Regions from separate parts of the Homo sapiens genome. Here region 2 is linked to region 1. The links come from fine-mapping of genetic effects on gene expression. A gene starts in region 1. The other region holds a variant in brackets. All regions are shown on one strand. Distances are from middle to middle. Region 1 holds the start of SQSTM1 (sequestosome 1). Region 2 overlaps MAML1 (mastermind like transcriptional coactivator 1).

Region 1 (5,366 bases):
CTACAGGAAGGGTAAAGAGAGCCGCTAGGGTGGGACCCCCTAAAGTCCTCCCCCTCTGTCGTCACTGTGGGGCTGTCACTGCCAGCAAGGCCCCCGGCCCTGCTCTCCAGCATGGAATCCACACAAAATTCAGCCACTTAGGTGAGGGCAGCAGAGCCACCAAGAACCTGCTAGGAGGTTCCCAGTCCCTGTGTCTGTTTGGCCCAGGCAGCAGAGCAGCAGCAAGGAGCCCTGTCTGCACAGCTTTGGCCTTGCCCTTCACCCAAGCGCCACGGCACCAGACCCCATCCCTAACCCAAGCACCACGGCACCAGACCCCATCCCTAGAGTGAACATGGACTCCTCTTTCTCAGGTCAGGCACAGCACTTAAAATGTCTTTTTTTTTTTTTTTTTTTTTTTTTTTTTTTTTTTGTCGCCTAGGCTGGAGTACAGTCATGTGATTTCGGCTCATGGCAACCTCCGCTCTCCAGGTTTAAGTGATTCTCGTCTCAGCCTCCTGAGTAGCTGGGACTAGAAGCATGTACCACCACACCCGGCTAATTTTTGTATTTTTAGTAGCGACAAGGTTTCACCATGTTGGCCAGGCTGTTCTTAAACTCCTGACCTCAGGTGACCTGCCCGCCTCGGCCTCCCAAAGTGCTGGAATTACAGGCGTGAGCCACACCTGGCCTATGTCTCTGTCTTAAACAGCCCTCAAATTGCTGACCCCTTCATTGGTGGAACATCGAGCCCTGTTTTTTACTCAGCAGGGAACTGAGTACAAGCTGAGCTGGCTTCAGGCAGCCCCCAGAGCAGCCCCTTACCTTTAATGTAGATTCGGAAGATGTCATCCTTCACGTAGGACATGGCCATTGTCAATTCCTCGTCACTGGAAAAGGCAACCAAGTCCCCGTCCTCATCTAGATTGTTTAAAAGACAGCACGTGAGCACCCAGGGGTTCTCAGCTGGACATAAGCTGCTGGAATGGGCTGAGGCAAGTATGAAAGGGACACTCACAGGGCTATAAACAAACACACCTACTTGAGCCACAGAGGGCAGGAGTGAGAGGCAAGACTACCCCCTTGCTCTGGCACCTCCTGGAAGGTGAGTGCTCCGACCTGGGCCCTGGACCACAGCCACATGCAGGGGGCGGAGGGCCTGTGCACAGGGGCAGCAGCTTTGGCTGCTGCACTTATTTAGCCTTGGGCCAGCTGCCTTTTCAGAAACGTGCCACCTCATTCCCCATCCGACCAGGCCCATGTCCGTCTTCAACTGTGGGAGATCCCTGCCTGTGACCTGCTCCTGAGGGGCCCAGCCCCACAAAGGCCTTAGACTTCTAGTGGCTTGGGAGTAAAGGAGAAGACAAGGGCATCTGCCTGCTTCCTTCCCTAACAAAGCTGAAAGACACGTATTTGTATGTAGTCTCCATTTGTGACAGATACATATGAGCTGAAATGGCTTTAAAGCACAGCTGTGCAGACCAAACCACGCCATCCACCGAGGGCACAGGTGAGGCACCCAAAGATGCAAACAACCCAAATGTCTGTCAACTAATGAACAGGTAAACAAAACATGGCCTGTCCACACAACAGAATATTATTCCTCCAAAAAAAACTAGTTCTGATATGTGCCACAACACTGAACACATTACACTAAGTGAAAGAAACCACTTGCAAGACTACATTGTCTGATTCTATTTACATGAAATGTCCAGGATTGCAAGATGAATAGATACAGAAAGGAGGTTGCTGGGGGCATGTGGATAAGAGGGTGATAAAAGGTATGTATGGCGTTTATAAGGTGATGAAAAGCTCTCACACTGAATATGGTCCACAAACCTATGAAAATAGTGAAAACCACTGACTTGTACACTAAATGGGTGAACCCTTATTTCAGTTACAGCTCAATAACATCACAATTTTTTTTTTTTTAAGAATAGGAGAGGGCCTGGTATGCTGGCAGCGCTCCAGAGGGAGGTCCTAGCACTGCACCCTCCCAGGGGCCGGCCTTGGCCACCTCCCGCCCTCCTGGCCACAACCACCTCCCTAACCCCACCCCCAGCAGCCACTGGTCACACCAGCGCAGCAGGAAACAGGGCTTCTGTGCCAACACCAACACTTCTGAAGAACGTTCTCGTCCACTTGCCAATGGGAAAACATCTGTACTCGACCTGGCTCGGAGCGTTCCGCCGGCGATCCGTGCCCTTCTCCCAGGCGCTGTCGCGGCGCTCGCGAGTCCCCCGCACCCCCGCGCTTGTTTACCCGCGTCACTCCCTCCCCTCGCCGGCGCTCGCCCGGCTCCTCCAGGGCATTATCTGAACCCACCACCTGGCGCAGCAAGGTGTCAGTGTAACCCGAGTGCCCGCCTGACCACCCAGTGCCCGCGGAGAGCCAGAGCGTTCGCCCCGGCGCGTCCTTGCCAAAATCCCCAACAGCGCGGGGGGTGGAGCGGGGCGTCTGACGCCCCCAGGCTCGAGCCCCCGGCCGGCAGGGCTCCACCGCCCCAGGGGGCCGACGCTGAGCAGCGGGTCCCGGCCTTGGTCACCACTCCAGTCACCAGGCCGGCTCCCATGGCCGAACTGGGGACCCATGCAGGCCACCGCCATCCAGGGAGCAGCCAGCGCAGACCCCCTCACGGCCCGCCAGGCGTCGCCGAGAAGGGAGGGGGCAGCCACCCCGCGGCAGGAGGCCGTGTCCGGCCTGCGTCACCGCCCCCGCCGCTCCCCGGCCCGCTCACCGCGGTAGTGCGCCTGGAAGCCGCCAGGCCGCAGCGCGGGGAACAGGGCGGCCACCCGGCTCAGCAGCCGCTCGCAGGGTCCCGGACCCGCCGCAGCCTCGGCTTCCGCCTCAGGCTCGGGGCTGCAGCAGAAGCTGAAGCGGCGAATCTCGCGCGCCGCGTCCTCCTTGCCCAGAAGGTAGGCCTTCACGGTGAGCGACGCCATAGCGAGCGGCGAGCTGGCGGAAAACGGGCCGTCCCGGTCGCAGCCGCCGCGCGGCTTTTGTAGCGAACGCGGAGGCCCCGCCCCGCCTCGAGAGGGGCGGAGTCTCTCGCGCCCTCCCCGCCCCCGCCACCGTCGTCGCGGCGCGAGAGCCGCCCTGCAGAGGCCCCTTCACTACTCTCCCCTTCCCCGCTACCCCTCGCTCCAGGTCTCCCGGCCCCCTCATTGCTGACCCCTCTCTTCATTGCCCCGGTGCACCAAGGACCCCAGGAAACCGGCCCTGGCACTCATACAGGCCTGGGCTCCAGCCTCTGCACCTGGGATCAGGGTACTGGCGGGGGTCCAGCCCCTCGCCCCTCCCAGGCTTGGGCCTGGCCATGACTCAGCAATATCCTCAGTTGGGGGTACCCAGTGCAGGGAGAGGGGGACACAGCCCCCATATCAGGAGGCTGCTAGGTCGCCCAGTGGGCACTGCTGGCCAGAACAAGCTGGCTCTCAGGTTGCTGTTCCGACCCTGCCATGGTCAGCCTGCCGCGGTGGCAGCCCTCTTACAGCGCATGGCATCCTCGGTGATGGGCAGCGCATAGCATACTCGGTGACGGACCCCGACTCTGGCCTGAGCACCAGAGAAGTTCCCAGTTTAGTAGGAGTGGAGTTGAGAGGTGCTGGAGGACCAGCTAAGGTCTCCTGAGTGTCAGTGGTCGCCAAGTGTTCACTGTGGTCCAAGTGACTCCTTATGGGCTCCTCAATTCAGCAGGTAATGCCCATGGCCCTGTGGGGGCTCAGGCCCGTTGGCCTTGTGGGCAGCCAAGGGGGTCAGCCAACAGCCTCCTCAGCTAGGAAGGAAGAAACACTGCTTTATGCCACCAGAGTAACCTGTCCGCCAGAACTGGGGCAAGGAGAGGGGCAGGACGAGTGGTCACCCTCTGGAGCCTCCCAGGCAAGGTCCTGTGAGTAGGAGGTCAGAACCTGCTGGGTCCAACTCATGCCATTTCAGCCCAGGGCTTGCAGGAGCTGGAGAAACCTCCCAGGGGAGGAAACCCAGAGGGAGGCAAGAGTGGCTGGATGGGGCCAGTCAGGTGCGAAGGTGATGTGTGGGTGTGCGCACAGCAGGGGCTGGTCCACAGGTGTGAATGATCCTTCCCGGAGGGCTCCGAAGTGGGCAAGGCTTCCACCCTGCCCAGAGCAGCCCTGTGGAGAGGGTTCAGGCCTCTCCCTGCATCCGGCGGTGGAGAGTGGAAAATGCCCCAGGGCCTGCTGGAGCCACTGCCTTGCAGACAGGGGCAGGGGACACAGAGGGGCGTGCTGGCAGAGGCTGTGGCCTACAGACAGGTGCTGGCCAAGCGTGACTCAGCAGCCCAGGCGCCTGAGAGCCACGTGGCCCCCGCCGAGGGCCGGCTTTCCTGCCCCAGCCCCCGGCTATGGCCCGGTCTGAGCAGGGTGAGGGACACAAGGAAGGCCTGTGGCTCTGGGAACATAGCTTTGAGGAAGCGCTCAAGGCGCCCCACTCACCCCCAAGAAGGAGCTCCTTTGCTTTCTCGCCATTTGGCCCGTTTGGGATCGCGGGAAGTTTCCGCGGGGGCTAGGGGCATGTGAAGAGACTGGGGGGGGGGCGGGGAGGGGAGAAGGAAGCACAGAAGAGGGAGTCTTTGGGAAGCTGGGGTGGACACCCGGCTCTGGCCCTTCCCCGCACGCCTTGCGGCCCCAGCGGCCGCCCTGCCCCCACGCGAGGCCGAGGCCTCCCGGAGGTAAACAAGGCGCGGCGGGAACCCCCTGGCAGGGCCCTCTCCTCCCGCCGCGGAGGTCAGGTGGTCTGGCCGGCAGTGAGTCAGCGTCCCATGACCGCTGTCGTAATAGGGGGATCCCCGGCCCCTGCTGCCACCCATCTCAGTGACCTCTTACCTGGAGGCTGGGCTGGGGAGTGGCTCCGGGGTCACCGTGAGTCCCCTGAGCAGGAAGAGCGTGCAGCGGCTGGAGCCAGACAGACACTCTCCCCCTTCTCGCCTCTGACTCCTTCCCCTTTCCCGATGCAGTCCCACCCCGCAGGCTCCCCGCGTCCACTGGCCCCTTCCCACCCTCCAGGGCCCGGCGTGCATGCCCAGGGAAGGCTCGGCACCTGAGCCGCGAGACCCACTATGGACCAGCCTCTCATTTCCTCATCTTTCAAATGGGGCTGAAGTGGAAGGATTTGGGCTGCCCTCCCAGGCGATGCCCCGTGGGTGTGCGAGTTGTTTAGCTGCTTTTGGGGCTGTAAGCTGGGGGGTCAGGGCAGGACAGAGACTGCAGGGGGGCTGAGGTGGAAGAGTGGGGAGGGCAGGAGAGGCCTGAGCCAAGCGCCCAGTGGTCCCAGGAGACCAGCCGGGGCAGCCACAGGGGTGGTCTGGTTCTGTCTGTTGCTGCCCAGCATGTTGTAACCACCTCCTCAGTTCCCCCTTCCCCCCTCCCAAA
Region 2 (5,366 bases), 73 kb after region 1:
CACTTTAGGAGGCCGAGGCGGGTGGATCACCTGAGGTCAGGAGTTTGAGACCAGCCTGACCAATATGGTGAAACCCTGTCTCTACTAAAAATAAAAAATTAGCTACGCATCGTGGTGTGCGCCTGTAGTCCCAGCTACTCGGGAGGCTGAGACAGGAGAATCGCTTGAACCCAGGAGGCAGAGGTTGCAGTGAGCCAAGATCGTGCCACTGCACTCCAGCCTGGTGACAGAGCGAGATTCTGATTTAAAAAAAAGTAGCCTTGAACAACTAAGTTTTCAGGACAGCACTGAAGATAAGGGAAGCCCCCGGGACCTGCCGCCTGGGCCCAGCAGCAGCTCCTTACTGCACAAAGGGCTCCATACAGCAGGCACTGTGGCTCTGTGCCAGCTGCCTCCTTGCTGGGAATCGTCATCCTTGCCCACCTTTCTCTTTCTAGCAAACTCTTCCTCATCATCTCATTCAATTTATCCAATAAGAATCTACTGAGAGCCGTCAGGCCTGTAATCCCAGCACTTTGGGAGTCCCAGGCAAGCGGATTGCTTTGCACTCAGGAGTTCGAGACCAGCCTGGGGAACACGGCAAGACCCCACCTCTACAAAAAATACAATAATTAGCCGGACATGGTGGCTCATACCTGTAATCCCAGCTACTAAGGACACTGAAGCAGGAGAATAGCTTGAGCCCGGGAAGCAGAAGTTGCAGTGAGCCTAGATCGGGCCACTGTACTCCTGCCTGGGAGTCAAGAGACCCTGTCTTAAAACAAAAACAAAAAAATCTATTGAGAGCTGACTGAGCCAGCCACTCTCTGGGCCCTAGGGATACAGCAGAGAAACAAGCAAACAAAACCACAGGCTCTCCTAGAGCCTATATTCTAGCTGAGACGTACTCCCGAGAAAACAAATCACTCAAAGAGAGAGTTGGTGGGACTTATGATTCCAAATAAGGTGCTCAGGAAAGGGCTCACAGAGTAAGCATGTGAAGTCTAAGCAAGAATCCGCAGGAGATAAGAGCACATGGCCACATCCACAGAAGATCATTTGGTAATTTTATTTACTATTTCACTATTTGGGCAGCTATTATAACTACATGTAAATGAATATCAAAGATGATTAATATTAAAGCGGAGAGCAGGTGCACACTGGCAGTGCAAGGAGAGGGCAGCACTGCCCCTGCTGGATGGAGGCTCCAGGAGGTGAGCGCATCAATCTCCAGGTTGTGATCTGACTTCTGCTTCTCCGGGAGCTGACAAAGCCCCTCCTGAGGAAGTCGTGAGCAAGATCTTGGAGTTTTGGGAAACACAGGGCTCAGCATAGTCAGGCACCAGGCAGGGCCAAGGTGGGGACCAGGCGCTGGACCTGCAGTGGAAATACAGTCAGAGCAAGGGGGCTGCCCTGTACTTCCTGTTTCTAAGCTCACCATGGCCTGCCTTCACCTCTCGGTGGGTTGCACTGCTGCAGTATGGCTCAGTTGCCCTCCACGTCTGGTGCAGAGCCGCCACCCTAGGATCACTTCTCGCCATCCTCTGTGGGCCTCCCAGGCCATGTCTACTGTGTTGGGCTCCTGTTTGCTGTATCTGTGTCTTACTCTTTCATGATTTAGTCTTTCAATTTGGTGGAACACATCTTCCAGTAGCTTCTTGAGAAGGAGTATGACATTTAAATTTTTTAAACCTTTTTCGGCCAGGCACAGTGGCTCAGGCCTGTAATCCCACCACTTTGGGAAGCCGAGATGAGTGGATCACTAGAGGTCAGGAGTTCAAGACCAGCCTGGCCAACATGGTGAAACCCCTTCTGTACTAAAAATACAAAAATTTGCTGGGTGCGGTGGCTCACGTCTGTAATCCCAGTACTTTGGGAGGCCGAGGCAAGCGGATCACTTGAGGTTGGGAGTTCAAGACCAGCCTGACCAACGTGGAGAAATCCTGTCTCTACTAAAAACACAACATTATCCAGGCGTGGTGGCGCATGCCTGTAATCTCAGCTACTCGGGAGGCTGAGGCAGGAGAATCGCTTGAACCCAGAGGCGGAGGTTGCAGTGAGCAGAGATCGCGCCATTGCACCCCAGCCTGGGCAACAAGAGCAAAACTCCATCTCAAACAACAACAACTAGCCAGGTGTGGTGGCAGGCGCCTGTAATCCCAGCTACTCAGGAGGCCTAGACAGGGGAATTGCTCAAACCCAGGAGGTGGAGGTTGCAGTGAGCCAAGATCATGCCACTGAATTCCAGCCCGGGCGACAGAGTGAGACTCCATCTCAAACAAACAAACAAAAAACAAAAAAAAAAAAAACAAAAACACCTTTTTCTCACTTATTCTTGTTGTATAGTTAGGCTAGGTACAGAAGTCCAGGTTAGTAATCACTTTCCTTCAGAATTTTGAAGACATTGTTCCAATTCTCTTTTTGCTTCCTATGCTGCTGCCATGAAGTCCAAAGACATTCTGATTCTTGATATGTGACCTGGTACCCTCCCATCCAGAAGCTTGTAAATCTTTTCTATCAACTCAATGTTCAGAAATTCCATGCCTGGTGCAGGTCTATTTTCTTCCCTAGTGCTAGGCACAAGTACACAGTTTTAATCTGTTGGCTCATGTGCTTCTGTTATCAACTATTTTATAGGTCACTTCCCACCTTGTTTTCTCTCTTCCTGTAATTCCTATTATTCGGATGTCGGACCACTTACACTGGTCCTTAAATTT[T/G]ATTGATATGCCTTTATTAAACAACTCTTATAATATTGTTAGAACATTTTTAGGGCATGTGGTTTATAAAATCACAGTTTCTGTCTCACTTTTCAAAAACTGTGGTCAAAGGCACAGAACATAAAATTTACCATCTTAACTTTTTAAAGTATACAGTAGTCGGCTGGGTGCAGTGGCTCATGGCTGTAATCCCAGCACTTTGAGAGGCTGAGGTGGGTGGATCACTTGAGGTCAGGAGTTCGAGTCCAGCCTGGCCAACATGGCAAAATCCCATCTCTACTAAAAATACAAAATTAGCCAGGCGTGGTGGCAGGCACCTGTAGTCCCAGCTACTCAGGAGGCTGAGACACAAGGATCGCTTGAATCCAGGAGGTAGAGGCTGCAGTGAGCCAAGATATCACCACTGCACTCCAGCCTGGGCGACAGAGTGAGGCTCCATGTCAAAAAAATTAGTAAATAAAGTATGCAATAGTGTTAACCAAATGCACATTGTTGTGTAAGTAGAACTTACTCATCTAGTTATATCCATGAACAACTCCCCTATCTCTTCCCCGAGCCCATGACAACTACCATTCTACTTTCTGTTTCTATGAGTTTATTTTAGACATCTCAAATAAGTAGAATCATGCAATATTTATTTTTTGTGACTGTCTTATTTCACTTAGCATAATGTCCTCAAAGATCATGTTGCAGCACAGAACAGTATTTCCTTCTTTTTTTTTTTTTTTTTTTTTGAGATGGAGTCTCGCTGTCGCCCAGGCTGGAGTGCAGTGGGACAATCTCGGCTCACTGCAGGCTCCGCCTCCCGGGGTTCACGCCATTCTCCTGCCTCAGCCTCCCAAGTAGCTGGGACTACAGGTGCCCACCACCTCACCTGGCTAATTTTTTGTATTTTTAGTAGAGACGGGGTTTCACCGTGTTAGCCAAGATGGTCTCGATCTCCTGACCTCGTGATCCGCCCGCCTCGGCCTCCCGAAGTGCTGGGATTACAGGCATGAGCCACCGTGCCCAGCCTATTTCCTTCCTTTTTAAGGCTGAATAATATTCTGTTGTATGGATATGCCACATTTTCTTTATCCATTCATCTGTGATGGACATTCAGGTCGCTCCCTCCTAGTGTGATCAATGAAGCCCTAAACATGGATGTGCAAATCAGGACCTCCTGCCTTACCTCTACCAACTCCACTTCCCAACTGGTCCTAGCCCAAAGCCATACAGCTTCTGACTCTCACTTCAGAGCACCTTCTATAATACCATTAACACACAGTCAACAGATGCTTGATGACTGCCAAATACAGCAGGTACAATGCCAGACTCTTGGTCTTGCTCTTAAGTTGCTCATAGTCTAATACAGAACAGCAAAAACACACTAATTAAAAGTGTGAAAGCCAGGTGCATTGGCACACATCTGTAATCCCAGCTACTAGGGAGCTAAGCCCAGGAGTTGAAGGCTGTAGTGCACCATGATAGCACCTATGAATAGCCACTGCACTCCAGGTTGGGAGACAGAGCAAGACTTCGTCTCTACCAAAAATAAAAATAAACCCAGCCTGAGACTCTGTTTCAGGGGTAGGCGGCTGGGAAATAACAAAGAAAGAAAGAAACAAGGTACCTCTTAACTGAAAGAATAGCAGGCATAATCAATAACCAATTTATAAGACTTGCTAAAGGCTTTTTGTTATATTTCTCACTGAGAGTGAAGACTAATGACTAGATAAATCCTTTTGCAAGTCGGATGGTTTCTAATTCTTAGTTTTCAATGAAATTAAAAGACTAACCAAGTTGTCAACTGATAAGTTAATTTTTGATTATATGTAACTGTGATTTTTTGGCACACAATTCAGGTTTCAAAATATTGAGTAACATTGCTGGCTAGGTGTGGTGGCTCACGCCTGTAATCCCAGCACTTTGGGAGGCCGAGGTGGACCAATTACCTGAGGTCGGGAGTTCAAGACCAGCCTGACCAACGTGGAGAAACCCTGTCTCTACTAAAAATACAAAATTAGCCGGGTGTGGTGGCGTATGCCTGTAATCCCAGCTACTCGGGAGGCTGAGGTGGGAGAATCACTTGAACCCTGGGAGGCAGAGGTTGCGGTGAGCCAAGATCACGCCACTGCACTCCAGCCTGGGCAACAAGAGCGAAACTGTCTCAAAAAAAACAAAACATTGCTATAACTAAACTTATTCCCTTTTTTTTTGAGACGGAGTCTCGCTCTGCCGCCAGGCTGCAGTGCAGTGGCACAATCTCCGCTCACTGCAATCTCTGCCTCCCAGGTTCAAGCGATTCTCCTGCCTCAGCCTCCCAAGTTGCTGGGATTACAGGCAACAGCCACCACACCCGGCTAATTTTTGCATTTTTAGTAGAGACGGGGTTTCGCCATGTGGGCCAGGTTAGTCTCGAACTCCTGACCTCAGGTGATCCGCACCTGCCTCGGCCTCCCAGAGTGCTGGGATTACAGGTGTGAGCCACCGTGCCAAGCCATTTTTTTTGGTTTTGTTTTTTTTTTTTGAGGCAGAGTTTTGCTCTGTCACCCAGGCTGGAATGGAATGGCGCTATCTCAGCTCATCGAAACCTCCGCCTCCCCAGTTCAAGTGATTCTCCTGCCTCAGCCTCCCGAGTAGCTGGGATTACAGGCACATGCCACCACGCCCGGCTAATTTTTTTTTTTT

Evidence for each region. PIP is the estimated chance that this variant, and not a neighbour inherited with it, causes the effect. A credible set is the group of variants that fine-mapping cannot tell apart.
Region 2: its variant is the best candidate, but not a certain one, in a credible set for the expression of SQSTM1 in whole blood (TOPMed, PIP 0.53).

The regions. Positions count from the first base shown.
Region 1 is chr5:179,818,492-179,823,857 of GRCh38, reverse strand. SQSTM1 (sequestosome 1) reads right to left here and starts at 2,953. Exons shown (of 8, transcript NM_003900.5): 1 at 2,717-2,953; 2 at 805-900. The coding sequence starts at 2,921. RefSeq lists enhancers at 1-94, 95-633, 2,742-3,451, 4,059-4,218, 4,619-4,918 and 2 more and silencers at 2,339-2,518, 2,529-2,788, 2,899-3,148, 4,449-4,628.
Region 2 is chr5:179,745,873-179,751,238 of GRCh38, reverse strand. All of the region lies in intron 1 of MAML1 (mastermind like transcriptional coactivator 1), which reads right to left. Among named protein-coding and RNA genes, the nearest start is that of MAML1, 16 kb to the right of the region's middle. RefSeq lists an enhancer at 991-1,491. The variant T/G (reference allele first, on the strand shown) is at 2,697.